Homo sapiens: one gene and its partners. The protein of the gene in region 5 purifies or fractionates together with the protein of the main gene of each other region. This does not show direct contact. Each region holds a gene or a part of one and is shown on either strand. Other genes may lie near its edges.

Evidence for each region.
Region 1: the proteins of ATP2B1 (region 5) and RIMS1 purify together in Homo sapiens (co-immunoprecipitation; one large-scale study listed by IntAct). This does not show direct contact.
Region 2: the proteins of ATP2B1 (region 5) and TRIM71 purify together in Homo sapiens (affinity purification with mass spectrometry; one large-scale study listed by BioGRID and IntAct). This does not show direct contact.
Region 3: the proteins of ATP2B1 (region 5) and ACSL3 purify together in Homo sapiens (affinity purification with mass spectrometry; one large-scale study listed by BioGRID and IntAct). This does not show direct contact.
Region 4: the proteins of ATP2B1 (region 5) and ATP6AP2 purify together in Homo sapiens (co-immunoprecipitation; one large-scale study listed by IntAct). This does not show direct contact.

Annotation. Positions count from the first base shown.
Region 1 is NC_000006.12:72,246,536-72,250,054, forward strand, and holds part of RIMS1 (regulating synaptic membrane exocytosis protein 1), read left to right. Parts: intron 1-1,479; coding exon 1,480-1,592; intron 1,593-3,519. UniProt on the Homo sapiens protein: Rab effector involved in exocytosis. May act as scaffold protein that regulates neurotransmitter release at the active zone.
Region 2 is NC_000003.12:32,883,990-32,887,508, forward strand, and holds part of TRIM71 (E3 ubiquitin-protein ligase TRIM71), read left to right. Parts: intron 1-1,944; coding exon 1,945-2,079; intron 2,080-3,519.
Region 3 is NC_000002.12:222,930,519-222,934,037, forward strand, and holds part of ACSL3 (fatty acid CoA ligase Acsl3), read left to right. Parts: intron 1-102; coding exon 103-294; intron 295-2,647; coding exon 2,648-2,762; intron 2,763-3,519. UniProt on the Homo sapiens protein: Acyl-CoA synthetases (ACSL) activates long-chain fatty acids for both synthesis of cellular lipids, and degradation via beta-oxidation.
Region 4 is NC_000023.11:40,583,952-40,587,470, reverse strand, and holds part of ATP6AP2 (renin receptor precursor), read right to left. Parts: intron 1-3,519. UniProt on the Homo sapiens protein: Multifunctional protein which functions as a renin, prorenin cellular receptor and is involved in the assembly of the lysosomal proton-transporting V-type ATPase (V-ATPase) and the acidification of the endo-lysosomal system.
Region 5 is NC_000012.12:89,698,832-89,702,350, forward strand, and holds part of ATP2B1 (plasma membrane calcium-transporting ATPase 1), read right to left. Parts: intron 1-3,519. UniProt on the Homo sapiens protein: Catalyzes the hydrolysis of ATP coupled with the transport of calcium from the cytoplasm to the extracellular space thereby maintaining intracellular calcium homeostasis.

The DNA of each region.
Region 1 (3,519 bases), on a different chromosome or scaffold from region 5:
TGTTCTTACAGAACCCAAGTTAAAGAAATAGAAAATAAAAGGTGATTTAGGGGAAAACCAGTGATAGTGATTAGAAGGGAGAAGAAAATATGAAAGTAGGATAAACAAGGAAACAGACACTAGGTTATCATATAAAATGCATACCATCATGTTCTGCTAGAGGTGGACCCAGTTTTGGCTTTGAGCTTTCTGGTGACCAATACAAAGAGGGAAGTGGGACTAATTGCATAATTTATATTATTGATATGATTAAAAAATACACTGATTGCCATAATATTACAAACAAGCATTATTAGAAATAACAGTGTTCCTGTTCTGAGACTTAAGGAAAATGTATTTTAAATATACCTGGGAAAAGACACATAGTAACAATTTTATATAGCTGTTTTTTATCACTAAATGTTTTCGGAGGGCACAAAAGGATGACATGAGAATTAATTTGTACTTATAGAAAAAAATGTGCGGATTGCACATACTCAGGCAATGCTTCATAAACAGTATTTCTCAATGAAGCATTGGCTAAGTTTGAATGGTGGTGAGTTCAAGGTTGTACTTGCTGGATCAATAGCCTTCTATAAACACTCTGTATTGCTCTCTGTGTCAGGGTATACTTGGAACAGTGAAGAACTCCACCAAGTGGCTGAGAGGAGACCCAGCCTCCTCCATGTGAAGTTGAAACAAATCACTAGTGGTGAATTACTTGAAGCAGCATTTTCAGAGGTTCAGGATACTCATTTATAAGATCAAAACTAAGATAGATGGGGAGGCCGAGGTGGGCGGATCACCTGAGGTCAGGAGTTCGAGACCAGCCTCAACATGGAGAAACCCCGTCTCTACTAAAAATACAAAATTAGCCGGACGTGTTGGTGCATGCCTGTAATCCCAGCTACTCAGGAGGCTGAGGCAGAAGAATTGCTTGAACCTGCGAGGTGGAGGTTGCGGTGAGCCAAGATCATGCCATTGCACTCCAGCCTGGGCAACAAGAGCGAAACTCTGTCTCAAAAAAAAAAAAAAAAAAAACCTAAGATAGATGGTATATCTGATTTTAAAACAGTGGCAAAGTCTTGGCTTAGATGTGGCTTATAAATTATATTATGTATGCATTCATTTTAATTTCTCAGTAAGGACAGTTTATAATAGATGATCCATTAGCCAAGATAATTAGTGTTAACAGGCACTATCTTCCTTATCTCTGAAGCAGACCTTTACCCATATGTGAAGTCATGCAAGAGCCTGTGCAATACCATGCACTCCAGAAATGTAGATCAATTCTTTCCAGTTGAAATAAGCATAATACTTCGTTATATCATTCTTAATATTTTTTAAATAGACAACTAAAGACAATCTATCCCATTAAAAGTAGGTTCTGTTATCAGTGATAGTAATTATGGTTTTATACAAATAAAGGATGCATTTAACATTTTATTAAAAATATTTCCTACACTTACAAATATTACTTACTTTTTTTTCTCATTTTAGGTTCAAGTTCCTTTGAATCTCAGAAGATGGAAAGGCCTTCCATTTCTGTTATTTCTCCAACAAGTCCTGGAGCTCTAAAAGATGCCCCACAAGTCTTACCAGGGCAACTTTCTGTATGTATTTTTTGTACATGTTGGAGGCTGTTAGTATTTGCATACACTGTCTGAGTCTGTCTTTAAATATGTTCGCCTTTCCTTGAAGCCTGCAATAAATACATAGTCATTTAACACCATAATCTACTTCATTAGTTTTTCATGCATTTTTTATTATTCCTTTATTCACATATTTATTCAGAAATACTTACTGAGTGCTTGCAGTGTGCCAGATACTCTGAACATTAATTGATGAATGGTAACATAAGTAAATAAAGAGTTCATATTTTTTGTGTGCTATGTAAAAGTTTCTAAGGTAAATAATTGTTTACACATAATATTAGGAGTTCATACCCCATTTATGTAATAACCTTATGAGCCTAGAGCCTGAAGAGCCTAAATTTGGAATATTCTTTTTAACTTCCTAAGGCATTTGGCAAAACTCTTCGTTGCCACTGAAAGCTCTCTGAAAAAGCTACCATTTTCTCACTATTGCCTTATTATGTGATCTGGGGAAACCTGGAGTGAAGAAACTAGGGTTAAGGATAATGAAGAACCATATATTTGTAGATTATGATGGAAAATGTGATGTTGATATTATAATTTAAGGACTTCAAACTATTTGTTTCAAATTGTTACACAAATAATGACCTTTTGCTCCTCTGATAATGTGTGGATTTCTGTGGTTTGCCTTTGTGGTTTTCTCTTGATTTTAATGAGACAGAGAAGATATATGTAAGCTTATTGCTCAAGGGCTTTTATGGTTTTAACTTTTATTTTTAGTATATTGAATATCTTTGTAATACCCTTTGGGTTTATCTGCCGGCCATCTTTTTCTTCAGTGTATGTGTAAATCTCTCATATTCTCCACATATTTTGAAAGAGGATGGAAACCCATTCTGGTTCTGTGAAACCCCATCTTAGGTATCAATTGGGAATCAGAGAAATGGATTTACACAGATCCAGGTTTGAATTCTTAATCTGTTCCTTACCATGAAAAGCTAATCCTATGTTAAATTAGTTTATTTTGTTTTAATGACTCTCAAATATGTTCTAACATATACCTATTAACAGCATATGCTTACTTAAACATAAAATGAAAAGTAACTTCTAAATTAAAGGAAAAAAATTAAAGTTAACATTGTTAAAGTGTCATCACCACTGCCAGGGCAGATACTGTAATAATGACTGATAAAATTCCAATTCTTGTGAGTTTGACAATAGGATTTTAGTACGTTACTTCCCCATTATTCTTTGGTCTACTGTCATGAAATCTTGGTTAATAGAAATATCATTTGGCCTTCTTGTAGTTTGAAGATGTCATTTGTGTATTGTATCCTTAGTTTTTTCCTCCTTCTCTCATGAAAAATAACCTGTAATAGTTTAATTCTAAAAATTAAATGACGGCTTGGTGCAGTGGCTCACACCTTTAATCCCAGCACTTTGAGAGACTGAAGAGTTCAAGACTAGCCTGGCAACATAGCAAGACCCCCGATTCCACAAAAAATTTAAAAAACTGGCCAGACATGATGATGTACACCTGTGGTTCCATCTACCTGGGAGGCTGAACTGGGAGAATTGTTGGTTCCAGCAGTTTGAGGCTGCAGTGAGCTATGATCATGCCACTGCATTCCAGCCTGTGACAGAGTGAGACCATGTCTCTAAAAAATAAAAAAATAAGTGAGAAAAAATACCAGGAAATACTAAACGGTGCCTGTATAAAATAGGCCCACAGTAAATATGTTTTATGATCTCTTCTAATTCTTTGTATTTCTTATTCCTAATATCCAAACTCTTGTTTTTTTTAATTTTAACTACCTGTGACACCAGAGAAAGCATTTAGTCACGCTATAATAATTTAGACACATATAATCTTCAAACTCTTATTTTTAACATTTAAGAACAATAATAATGATTTTATGTCTCCCTCTTCCCTTAGTTTTTTGGA
Region 2 (3,519 bases), on a different chromosome or scaffold from region 5:
GCCCTCTGGATCTACCCAGTTCCCCTGTGAATCAGCTCAGTGGATCCTTAGGTCACACAGGATCCTCTTAGGCAGAGAATGCAGTGTGGCACCTAACCACTGGAGTCACGGGTGGTGTGCTTTTTTGTTTTGTTTTGTTTAAATAAAGACCAGGTTTCACCATGTTGGCCAGGCTGGTCTTAAACTCCTGAGCCCAAGTGATTTGCCTGCCTCGGCCTCCCAAAGTGCTGGGATTACAGGCATTAGCCTCTGTGCCTGGCTTCCATGGGTGTTTTTGGGGCTGCACCTTTGAGCGTGTCTTGCATGCCATGAATGTGTCAGCTGTCATCCAGAGCAAGTCAAACTGTTGGGCAGGAAGAATATTCATAAAAATAAGGTAGATCGTGTATTGTATGATGATGCCATCTATATGAAATACCCAGAACAGGCCAGGCGCAGTGGCTCATGCCTATAATGCCAGCACTTTTGGAGGCCTAGGTGGGCAGATCACTTGAGCCCAGGAGTTCGAGACCAGCCTAGGCAATGTGACAAGATTCCCCCATCTCTATTTGAAAAAAAAAAAAAAGAAAGAAAAAGAAATGCCCAGGACAGACAGATCTGTAGAGAGACAGTAGATTAGTGATCGCCATGGGGTAGAAGGAGGGAAGTGGAAATGACTCCTTAATGGTAATGGCCTTTGCTTTTTGGGTGGTGAAAATGTTCTGTAGCTAGATAGTGGTGGTGATTATACAACACTGAACATACTAAGTGTGACTAATGGTAAATTTTATGATAGGAGCTAAGTGGCCTGACGGGACACAATGGCTGAACTTTTGTCCCAGGTGTTTTATCAGCTGAGAACTATTAATAACAGTGTTTTACTCTGTGCCAGGTGCTGAGCTCAGCTCTACCCATGCATTTCCCTCACATCTACCTTTACCAAGGTTGGAGAGGACCAGGAGCTTGTCCAAGGCCTTACAACTAGTAGGAGGCCCTAAACTAACCCAGGATTGGAACCTGGGTTACCTGACTCCAGGGATGACTGGCCTGGTTTGCCCCGGACTGTCCCAGTTTTAGCATTGAAAGTCCCACATCCCAGAAACCCCTCAGTACAGAGCAAACTGGATGATTGGTCACTCTGATTCCTAAGCCCATACCAGGCTCCAGTTTGGGCTTCCCTGACACCCTCCTGATTGAATCACCTACCCGAAACCTGTTGTACCAAGAGCAATCACTTTGGAATCCCTGATTTAATAGCTCGGTATCTCAACCATGTAATATTAATGATAACACCATGCCTTCTGTCTGGATTAATTAACAATAATACGTCTGATTAAACTGGCTGATTTACTACGGCTGGTACAGGGTGGCGTGTGTGATGACGTGTAGATGGTCTCTGACCACGGGGCACAGCTCCTTAGGTAGATCGGGGGATATTCCCAGTGTGCACTTGGTGTTCGTTCTGGCTGGGGTGAGCTGTGTTGCCAGTGCCTTGACAAAAGCAGGATGGATTAGCCACTACCCTGTCGCACACCCTCACGTAAGGGATGTTCCTGGCCTGCGGGGTTTCGCCTAGGCAGAGGGTGAGGCCAGGAAGTCTGGGGAAGTTGCTTGTGTGGCTGGAGTTGTACATTTTACATCTGATCCTCATTCCCAGTTTTCATCTGTCACCCAGCTACACTGGTTTTGCTGTGTCAGAGTATCTCTTAATAGTTCTGACATTCACTGTGTAGGTGCTATTTCTCATGCAAAGAAATCCAGCTCTTGCCAGCAACTCCTTTAGTTACATGTCAAACAGATGCCAGTCTCTCCCTAAGTGCCTGTTTTCCTTCCAAGGGAGTGAATCAAGTGGTCTGGGAACCCAGGGTGTCAGCTTTTCAAGTCTGACAGAGCAGATTCAAATGTTTTGTATAAGGAATGACAGTCCTTCTAATGCCTCGAAGTTGTTTCTTTTTGGTTTTCCAGCTGAGCATCGAGCAGGCCCAGACGGTGGCGGAACAGGTGGAGATGAAGGCGAAGGTTGTGCAGTCGGAGGTCAAAGCCGTGACGGCGAGGCATAAGAAAGCCCTGGAGGAACGCGAGTGTGAGCTGCTGTGGAAGGTAACAGGGAGAGCTCCCCCACCCAGGCTGTGCCCACTCGGCTTCCATGAACCTCAGCAGCACTCTACGGGACTCTTTACAGATCCAGGAGCCAAGCTCTAAGTTTAAAACACTTCGTAATTTTCCAGAAAGCCTGTTAGCAGAAAGATGCAGGGGGTCCCTGGAACATTGTGGGTGCTGTCTGCAGTAAAACAACAAGAAGCCTTTTCAGAAGTACGTGGGTAACCAAGACTGGAAGCGGTCTCCAGTTTTATATTGCATTCACTCAAAAGGAGGCTAAAGAAGGGAGCATAGTCGAAACTGTTGTTAAGAAAGGCAGGCTGGTAGGAAACATCCCTATTTTTGGTGACCTGGCTGGTTGCACTTCCTGACCTCTTGTGGAAAACCAGTTTTCCTCTTCGGAGGGCAGTGAGTGTGTGTCCTTTCTTCCTGTTGGAGCAGGAAAGAGTGCCGAGCACACTAGTGTGCTGTTTAGATAAAAATCAGCTAGAAAGACTACTTGCCCCACCCAAGCCAGCATTCCAACTGTTCCTTTTCTGATTTTATGTCCCCACTCAGAAAGGAGGAGAGTTAGGTCTATGAAAGGGCCAGTACTCCATGCCAATTCTTTAACTATAATTACATTCTCTGAACACACGAAAAAGACTAGAGCTGATTTATAAGGGTATCCTTGTGGAGTGTGCCTGTTTCCATCTCCAAACAATATGATGATGGTGGGGATGGCACCTCAGTTTCTGCAAGTGAACTTTGCTAACTACTGGGCCCTACAATGTTCTGCAAGGTGTCCCTGGATTTTGCATTGCATTTTCCATTTAGTTAACTTCACAACTGGATGGATGCTTTCTGCCTCTTCTGACCTCTTAAGGAATATGGCTCAATTGCTTTCTGACAAGAGACTTTGGAGGTGTTAGTCCAAGATTTTTAATTCAGCATATTTTTTGAGCACCTTTGTGGGCATGACATCATTTTCAGACACTCAGATGTCCCCATGGGTCTGCCAGTGTTATGCCACCCACGAATGTTAATTATAACTGAGGGGCCCATTTCTTGCAACCTGAGAGCTTTGTAGTGAACTCTGCCACAAACTCGCTCTTCTGGATTTCCTGATGAAAAAGGCCTTTGTGTGTGGGGGTTTCTGCCGCTTTCACCTTAGTTACCCTCCCTCCTGTGAGGCTGACCCACTGTCCTCTCTAAAGGCAGTTCTGTTTCAGAAGAAATAGCAAGTTTTTACTCTTGGGAGAAGCCTATTTGAAAGAAGAGTCCATCCCTTCTTCATTGTAGTAAGCAGTTTCTGCTTGCCCAAAAATTCATCCTCAGAGCATTCCAAAATAAGCTTCCTTATTTTGGATACTTTTGCTATAGAACCTTGCTCCAAATCCTGTGGGGTCCCTCTCTCTTTGACTAATTACTGACTTTTTTTTTTTTTTTTTTTTTCTGTTC
Region 3 (3,519 bases), on a different chromosome or scaffold from region 5:
TTCTAATTGGATTAAAATAAGATGACTGTTTAGAAACTAGTAGTTTCAAATTTTCATGTGTTGTATTTAACTCAACTATTAACTCAATTATTATTTTATTAGGTGGATACTTTAATACTGATAAGCCACACCCCAGGGGTGAAATTCTTATTGGGGGCCAAAGTGTGACAATGGGGTACTACAAAAATGAAGCAAAAACAAAAGCTGATTTCTTTGAAGATGAAAATGGACAAAGGTGGCTCTGTACTGGGGATATTGGAGAGTTTGAACCCGATGGATGCTTAAAGATTATTGGTAAGTCATCTAATATTTTTTTGAAAATGAATGTTTCTGAAATAGTTTACACAAGAAGCACAATATATTTAGAGGAGGCGCTGAATAATATAAATCTTTATGTAATCTTAGTTTGGGTTGTTGCATCACTCCTGGAATATAAAATATTACGGACTGTGGAATTTATGAGGCCTGACATGTTATGAGTTCTCAAAGATGGTTCAGCAGCAGTGGTATTTTAAATTACTCTTAGATAACCTTCAGTCATTGTTTCCTGCCTGTGTTTCTGACATCTAGAGATTAGTGGATGGAGCTCTCACAGTCTGAACTGCACCCTTGCCTTGCCCTGCCCAGGAGAATAGAGGAAAGCCAGGCAGCTCAAGTACTATGACTCATATGGGTTGAAAAATACCTTATTCTGCTTCTCCTTTTAGGTTCTTTTTTTTTAAAAGTTAATGGCATTTCAGTTAGCCGTGTGTGGTGTCTTTGTCGGGCACCTGTAATCCCAGCTACTTGGGAGGCCGAGGCAGGAGAATGGCATGAACCCGGGAGGCAGAGCTTGCAGCAAGCGGAGATCGCGACACTGCACTCCAACCTGGGCAACAGAGCAAGACTCTGTCTAAAAAAAAAAAAAAAGTTAATGGCATTTCTATCCCTGTCTTGCTAACTAGAAACCTGGGAGGAGACTCAAGACTGTTCTCTTCAGTCAGCTTCCCATGCCTATTTTATATCCCACTAGTTTATTTTATGAGCTATGTCTCAAAATCATACTCTTCTCTCTTTGTCTCTCTTACTTGATCATTGGTCAGGCCTGTACCTTCTGCCACCCTCTCCCAATAATTTCTCTGTTGCCATGTTTACCCCCTTAAACACACCCTCTCACTGCCACCATGTAATTACTAAACATGGATCTTACTGGCCACAACCATTTAATGTCTCCTAGAAGCTCAGTTCAGGGTGCCCCTGTTAACATTGTTCCCCTCTTCACCTTCATCGTCAGTTGTTTTCCTCCTCCTCCTTGATGCAGCTGAAATTAGAGCTGATGTTCTTCTGGCTTTTGCCAGTGTTGTTGCACCTGACCTCTCACTTTTCCCTTAGGACTCGGCTCAAGCAGCTGAGCATAGTGACTCAGGCCTGTAATCCCAGCTACTCGGGAGGCTGAGGTGGGAGTATCACAGGAGCCCAGGAGGCCGTGATTGTGCCACTGCACTCCAGTATGAGCAACAGAGTGAGACCCTGTCTCAAAATCTCAAAACCAACCAACCATCCAACCCTCAGCTCAGGCCTCACTTGCAAGAATTTTTTCCAAATCCCCAGGTTGGAGAGTCTTAACACTTAGCGCTACCATTGTAGTACCAATGTATTGAAGTAATACGTTTTTGCATTATGCATGTCTCCAGATAGGTTGTGAACTTGCAGATGGCATTGAATATCTTCTTCACCTGCCTGGTACTAATGGATACCAGAAATAAACCTGTTCAGAAGAACATACTTGAAGCCCTGCTAATGGAGTCCATTAAGTAGAAGTTAATTGTTTTTCTTTCTTTCTTTTTTTGAGATGTAGTCTTGCTCTGTCGCCCAGGCTGGAGTGCAGTGGCACCATCTCAGCTCACTGCAACCTCTGTCTCCTGGGTTCACGCAATTCTCCTGCCTCAGCCTCCTGAGTAGCTGGGATTACAGGTGTGCACCACCACGCCCAGCTAGTTTTCGTATTTTTAGTAGAGTCGGGGTTTCACCATGTTGGCCAGGCTGGTCTCGAACTCCTGACCTCAAGTGATGTGCCCGCCTCGGCCTCCCGAAGTGCTGGGATTACAGACATGAGCCACTGGACCTGGCCTGTTTTTCTTTTAAAAGCATGGGCCGGGCGCGGTGGCTCACGCCTGTAATCCCAGCACTTTGGGAGGCCGAGGCGGGTGGATCATGAGGTCAGGAGATCGAGACCATCCTGGCTAACAAGGTGAAACCCCGTCTCTACTAAAAATACAAAAAATTAGCCGGGCGCGGTGGCGGGCGCCTGTAGTCCCAGCTACTCGGGAGGCTGAGGCAGGAGAATGGCGTGAACCCGGGAAGCGGAGCTTGCAGTGAGCCGAGATTGCGCCACTGCAGTCCGCAGTCCAGCCTGGGCGACAGAGCGAGACTCCGTCTCAAAAAAAAAAAAAAAAAAAAAAAAGCATGTATTTAGCAGTACAAAAATTAGGGCCTAATTTTAATATGTGCTTTTAATTTCAGCATAACCATTAATGCTTAATTTTGCAAAGTTTTAAATAATTTGATAGCAAATTACTTAGAGAATGGCCAGTATTTATATATGTATTAAATGTTACTAATATTATTACTCATTGTTTTCCCCTCTCCACCTTTCTTTGTTTTGCAGATCGTAAAAAGGACCTTGTAAAACTACAGGCAGGGGAATATGTTTCTCTTGGGAAAGTAGAGGCAGCTTTGAAGAATCTTCCACTAGTAGATAACATTTGTGCATATGCAAACAGGTAAGAACGTGGAATTCATACTACTTTTACTTAAAATATTTGATGTCCATAGACATTTCCTACCTGTATGGACCTTCTTTGTAAAAATGTTCCGAGAACTCTTCCTATCTGTTACTTGTGGGAATGGCCTCCTTCTCATTGCAGCCATTAGCTGACTCTTTTCCTTGTAAGGCTTCCCCTGATCTTTCTCTCTGTCCCTGTTTTCTGCTTTACGTCTCACTGCAGTGTCCCATGGAGGGAGGTGAAGAAAATAAAACCTTCCTTCCTGCTGCCTTGGTACCCCTACCTACCTGTCCCTCAGCAGGGGAAGCTTCACAGAACTACTCCAGAGGAATGGGGAGTAAAGAAGTGGCAGTGAGGAGTGTGCTGCTTACTTACTCCTGCTCTACACTTGAGCCTGCTCGGCACTCCAGGCAGGTCTTGGGGCTCCTATGTAAGCTGTGTTAAGCTGCAGCCTAAACACACAGCCTCCCCACCTCATGATGATGAAGAGGCAGCTGGGGACCTGTCTACGACAGTTGACATGAATTATTATGGGAAAATAAAATCTGTTATCAGGAAAACTAATTTAGAAACAGATGTTGGGGGTACAGCCCAAGTTAGAAATGAATTGCATTTATTTATAAATGATTCTGGTCTTTAGCCATTTAGTATTTTCTTTAGTGATGATACAGATCTGGATTTATTCATGTGATAGTAACCAGAAGCATCTTCTTCCTGATGTTACTATTTTATGGCCTTCAAAAAAGTATTTGCC
Region 4 (3,519 bases), on a different chromosome or scaffold from region 5:
CCGGCACAGCTGTCAGAACAGGAATGTCCAAACTGCTCTAGCTGAAGACAGACCAAAAAAATTAGCAGAATGGAATGGTCTTTTGTAACTGATAGATATCTTGGTTCACTAAAGTAGTAGTACTGCAAACACTAAGAAAAATGGGGAACCAAGAGACCTATGCTTCCCAAGAACCATACACATATTTTGTTTGTTTGTTTTGAGACAGAGTCTCACACTGTCGCCTAGGCTGGAGTGCAGTGGCACAATATTGGCTCACTGCAACCTCTGCCTGCCAGGTTCAAGCAATTCTCCTGCCTCAGCCTCCCAAGTAGCTGGGATTACAGGTGTGTGCCACCATGCCTGGCTAAATTTTGTATTTTCAGTAGAGACAGGGTGACACCATGTTAGCCAAGCTGGTCTCAAACTCCTGACCTCAAGTGATCGGCCCGCCTCAGCCTCCCTATGTGCTGGGATTACAGGCGTGAGCCACCGCGCCCAGCCCCAGGTACCATACACATTTAAAAAACCATATTTTGATTTGGAGATACCCTTGTTTTGAGACACGGCCCTACTCATTCAATTCTGGCAAACCTATACCAAATAACTTTGCCCCAGCTTCGTAGTTTCAACTTCCATGCCTGTACAACAGTCCTTCAGAAGCCCAGAGCTTTAGAAAACCTTAGAGTCAGGGACTCCTATACAGAGGAAGGTCATTTGTCCAAACTTCTGCTTATTATAAGTATAAGCATGTCTCAGGGATACCTGGCAGAAAGTCACCCCTCCTCTATTTCAATACTACCAGTGATGGGGACACCACCTCAATATACGAACTACATTTGCCAGCAACTGGCTCCATTTTCCTAACATTCTAGTCCTTTGAAAAGTTTTTCCTTGTACTGAACTGAAATGGGCTTCCTAACTTTCAACTTCCTATGCTATCACTCCCCAACTCAGTCTCACCAGATAACCTCATCTCCAGCTTCACAGAGAAAACAGAGGAATTTCTTGAGCTACCTGCTTCCTCTCCCCACCACAAATTTATCTGCATAAGCCCCTATCTGTAACTCCTCTCCCTCCAGACATGAGGGCAGGGATGTCCCTCCTCCAGACTAAGACAATCCTGTGTTCAGTCTTTTTAGGGACCTTTGTTCCTTCACTGTTTGTTAAGGAAGCCACTCTTCTAGGACAGACAACACATCAGGAGTGAGGTGGCTATATGGTAATAGCCATCAAAAGATGGCCCTATAGAATACAAGCTCCATGAAGGCGGGGATTTCAGTGCGTCTTGTTCACACACTATCCCCAGGGCTGAGAACAGAGCCCGACACATTGGTGCTCAATAAGTACTTGTTGAGTTAATGAATGAATGAAGTCACACTTCAAACCACCAGTTTTTTCCCTCTCCACTGGCCCTTTCACTTCAGCATAAAAATACGCTCAAGGCACTCCCATTCTATAACTAAAACCATAAAAAACCTCCTTTGGTCCTACCAGTCTCCACCAGCTACCAGCCTTGCTCCCCTTCAGAGGAAGAATCCAGGAAGAGCAGTCAACCACCGTTTGCTTCTATACTTCATTTTAAGTTTACTACTTAACCCACAAAATTTTAAAAATTTTTTTTATTTTTATTTTTTGAGACAGGGTCTTGCTGTCACCCAGGTTGGAGTGCAGTGGTAAGGATCTCAGCTCACCGCAACCTCCACCTCCCAGGTTCAAGAGATTCTCCTGCCTCAGACTCCTGAGTGGCTGGGACTACAGGCACGCACCACCACGTCTGGCTAACTTGTGTATTTTTTTGGTAGAGACAGGGTTTCACTACGTTGGCCAGACTGGTCTCGAACTCCTGACCTCAAACAATCCGCCTGCCTCGGCCTCCCAAAGTGCTGGGATTACAGGCGTGAGCCACCCCACCTGGCCGCCCACACCTTCCAAGCCCACCATGCCACTGAAACGACTCCCCAAACTCAAAAGGCAATTTCCATCCCTTAATTTTATCTAACTTCCCAAAGCATTTGATACTGGCAACTCCCTCCTTGAAAAGCCCCTGCTTTGGTCTTCATGCAGCCACGGCTCCTGGTTTTCCTTGCAATCCCTTTGGCTGCTTCTCCTCTGTTTCTTTCCCTTCCTGTCCTTTAAAGCAGTGGTAGCCAAACTTTTTAGATTTCAACCCTGTCAGCCCAAAATTGGAAAGTAGCCCTTCTTTCTTCTCTCTGTCCCTCTCATCCTCTCCATGTAAAGTATATACTTCTACTATAGTAATAGATTATGTATTTGATTTGTGCTATATTACAAAGCATACAAAAATAAAAGTTTTTAAAAGGATGAGATACCTGTGTAGTATTTTTCCCAATCTAATAATGAGAAAACATCAGATAAACCCAAATTGAGGGACAGTCTACAAAATACCTGACCATTATTATTCAAAAAGAGATAAGATAAAAATAGGCCAGGCATGATGGCTCACACCTGTAATCCCAGCACTTTGGGAGGCCAAGACAGGCGGATCACTTGAGGCCAAGAGTTCAAGACCAGCCTGGCCATAATGGCGAAACCTCATCTCTACTAAAAATACAAAAATGAGGCCAGGTGTGGTGGCTCATGCCTGTAATCCCAGCACTTTCAGAGGCTGAGGCAGGCAGATCATTTGAGGTCAGGAGTTTGAGACCAGTCTGGTGAACATAGTGAAACCCCGTCTCTACCAAAAAAATACACAAGTTAGACAGATGTGGTGGTGCATGCCTGTAGTCCCAGCTACTCAAGAGGCAGAGCACCTGAGGTTGGGAGTTCAAGACCAGCCTGACCAACATGGAGAAACCCCGTCTCCACTAAAAAAATACAAAATTAGCCAGGCATGGTGGTGCATGCCTGTAATCCTAGCTACTCGGGAGACTGAGGCAGGAGAATCACTTGAACCCGGAAGGTGGAGCTTGCAGTGAGCCAAGATCATGCCATTGCATTCCAGCCTGGGCAACAAGAGTAGTCCCAGCTACTTGGGAGGCTGAGGGACAAGAATCACTTGAACCCCAGAGGCGGAGGTTGTAGTGAGCCGAGATCGTGCCACTGCACTTCAGCCTGGGTGACAGAGCAAGACTCTGTCTCAAAAAAGGAAAAAAAAAAAAAAAAAGATAGAGGCTGGGTGCGATGGCTCACACCTGCGTGTAATCCCAGCACTTTGGGAGGCTGAGGAGGAGGATCACTTGAGCCCAAGAGTTTGAGACCTCATCTCTACAAAAACAAACAAAAAATTAGCTGGGTATGGTGGCATGCGCCTGTGGTCCCAGCTACTAGGGAGGCTGAGGTGGGAGAATCGCTTGAGCCTGGGTGGTCGAGGCTGCAGTGAGCTGTGATCACACCAGTGCACTCCAGCCTGGGTGACGGAGTGAGACCCTGTCTCAAAAACAAAAACAAAAAGGATATAAATGGAATTTCTAGTACATTCATCTGGCATCCAAATGGATCACCTAGCATACTCCACTTTGGAGATCTGAGGGCTCCATTCTTGACTCTTACTGCTTTCCTATTCTACATCTCTCCCAG
Region 5 (3,519 bases):
GAATTCTGAAAGCTGGGTGAGGGAAGAAGACTGGTGATCTTAACATAAATAGGTAAACACTCGGTTTTGAGTGTGGTACCCTGGTTTTCAACTGTATTCCCAGTGTGCATAGCCTTCTCCAGAAAGCAAGCTTCCAGCCTTCTGCAAGGATGAAGGAAAAGAGATCACAGAGTACAGACAGAGGGAAAGATATCTGGGTATCAAATTCCTAAAATTTCAACCAGTTCTCCCGTTTTGCCCCCCTGTCCCCTCTTCACCATGGGTCCCATGTTTTCCCAGCTTTGAGCTCTCAGGGAATTCTATAAACTGACTTGTTTCTGGGCTTTTCTATTACTTAGAGATCAGCTTTTTAAGTCTACTAAGTCAACGCCTTCTAAAATTTTGGTGTGGGTTTCTCTTCTCCCTTGTGGATTTATGGCTTTTTTAAAAAAGAATTCCCTTATTCTCATTTTAGTATATGTTTGGCAAGAGGCAGAGTTAAATGCTAGTAATATGCCACTTGTTTAACTGAAATCTTAGATAATTTAGCTTTTCAATAAATGTATTTATCTTCATAAATCAAACACGGTGTATCACAGACGAAACGTCAAAATGATGACAAAGTAGTTAAAAGACAAAATTGGAAGGCAAACCTAACAGAATAAAGAAATAAATGGTTGAAAGTTTGGGGGGAGCGGGTAACCTGTTTTTGCTATACAAATTTTGTTAAAAGCCAAATTTTCAAGAGAGAAAAATCAAAACCCCCTGACTTTGTACTTTTTGAGGAGTTAAAGAAACCAAGTGATTTATCCAAGACAAGTGGGCTTTTTAGTGGTGAAGATAAATTTCACATTTAAATCTGGTGAGTCCTTAACATATCATGGAGTAAAAACCAAAACCAAAGGAGACACAGGCTCTGAGAAAGGTGGGTATTTCTAGCAAAAGAAATGCTGTCAGCAGGAGGGCCGGAGGTGATCAAGTTCCAGCATTAAATTATGTACATAAAAACAGTAGTGCTTAAGCTCAAAGGCAGGGTCATCTATTTTTTGAGACAGAGACGGTCTCCCTCTGTCGCCCAGGCTGTAGTGCTGTGGCACAATCTCAGTTCACTGCAACCTCTACCTCCTAGAATCAAGCGATCCTCCTACCTCAGCCTCCCAAGTAGCTAGGACTACAGGTACACGACACCATGCCTGGCTAAATTTTTTTTTTTTTTTTTTTTTAGTAGAGATGAGGTTTTGTCATGTTGCCCAGGCTGGTCTCAGACTCCTGTGGTCAAGCAATCCTCCTGCTTCAGTCTCCCAAAGGGCTGGGATTACAGGCAGGAGCCACTGCGCTCGGCCAAAGACAGGGTAACATAAACTTTACCCTAAATCCACTGTGCATGCAGAAAGGGGTTGACTGACGAATCCTTGTTTTTCTGAGACTCGACATGCAGACAGTTTGATGCTAGAGGAGCTCCCTTTCCTAGGCTTTGTCATATTTCTTTCCCATTCACTGACTGACCTTCCTTGTTTTCAGCCCTCTATTTGCACTGGTACCCTTTAACTCAGTAGTTCTCCGCTATGGTATTAGTTGTCAGGAGTGTCCACACTTAAGTACCTTAAGTTCATGAGTCATTTTTTAAGCAAACAAAAAAGAGTAGTTATAGCACTTACTTTCTTTTGAGCATGAATAGAGAAGAAAAGGACAGAAGTATAGCAAAGAAATTAAAAATCTCTTAGTATTAGAGGTACTAAAAAAATCTAGATATTAGCAAGGGAGAATGGAGTATATGTCAGTATCATCCATGAGTGTCCCAGTAGAAAAACAACTTACTAATCTAACCAATTTCACTTTTGCTGATTCCATTCATCTCTACCTTCAGATTTCTTTTTATTTTCTTCACTACCAAAACCACTCCTGTGCTACTCTTTGACCAACAATTTTATTATGATTATTATTGCAACGTCAATTAAAGCAGGAGCAAGTCTTAGAACTCCTTCCACAATACCTTACCAACAATTAGACCTATAAAATTTAAAAGGTTGGGAGAATACTCAATAGCAGTGCACCTGTAAGGTCTCAGCTGTGCTAATCATAGGAAAATGAATAATTTCTGGAGAACAACTCTTATTTTTTCAAGCATTTTTAAATATAACAGCTTACATACTAAAGCTATATAAATCTTTAGTTACTTAAATGTCTAAAATTACTACTCTATGTATCACTCAGACATTCAATAGAAATGATAAAGTCAAATACAGGCTTTCCTTCTTGACTTCTTGGCAGCTGGAAGAATAATCCATTGCTATACTCTAATACAGACCATATACCTACTCTTCTTCCTGATGCCTAGTGATTCTGTAGCAGGTCATGATCTAACAGTTTGCTCTCAGTTCATGGAACGGCAGCAATGATATGATGCTCAGTCTTTGGTCTGTCTAAATGTGCCCATTCTTCAAAACTCAGCATTACTCCACCCTTTCCCATCATCTCTCTTTGATTTTCTGGTCTGAAGTCCTCCGGGTTGTACACTTCCCATTTATTATCCCTTTGTCTTAGTAATTCATTTGGAGATAACATAAAAGAACTGAGATAAGATATAGGGTTCTATATCACGATATATAGAACTTTATCCAGCAAATGTTCAGGTACTATTTTTTTTGGCATATTGGTTTAGGATTTAGACATTGTGTAGCTTCTGTTAAAGTAAAGCAGAGAAGGTTAAGGAAATTTTTCTGGGAGATTTTTAAAACCTTTTTACCTTTGGAATTTTAACCTTACTCAGATGGGTTCATAAGGCAATGTTTTATTTCTGGAAGATAGCTACATACATTTCACAGAATGTTACTAGGACAGTAGAATTTAGCTTCTCTACAGGCAGGACTTTTCCACTTCTGAATTTCAATGTGGCAGTTAATTTGGTTTTTTTGTTTGGTAAACAGGTTCTTTGCTGTGTCACCCAGGCAGCCTCGAACTCCTGGCCTCAAGCGAACCTCCTGCCTCAGCCTCCCAAAGTGCTAGGACTTATAGGCATCAAGCACAGCATCTGGCCCCTAAGGGTCCTATCAGGTGAGAGGAAAAACACATACACATTCACAACAAAAGGATGAGGGACCACCAGACTCTAAGACCGTCACACAGTGGACAGTCAGCAATACTACAGTATGCAACACAGCTCTCAACTCCAGGAAACACAATTCATTTTGTGTTGTATGTGAACAGCATCCCCTGGAGTTGTGCAAAGCAGTGATCCTGGTACACAAAGTTAACAAGGTGAGATGTTCCACTAAAGGGAGTTTTGTGAAATGAGAGGACAAAACACTAGCCACATTTAGATTCAGCCCTTATTAGCACCTTGAAGTACCAGAGAAGTTCCAAACTGCATAAACCAGCATATCCTGGAGTTTGGTTGTGCCTCTTTCCCCCAGGAAATCCCTATTAATATTTTTTGGAACCAGCATTCTAAAACACAATTTAGAAAACACTGAGCTACTTTATAAAAGGCCTTCAGAGTCAAGTTGTATTTTGATAAAGAGAAAAATAAAAAAAAGATGA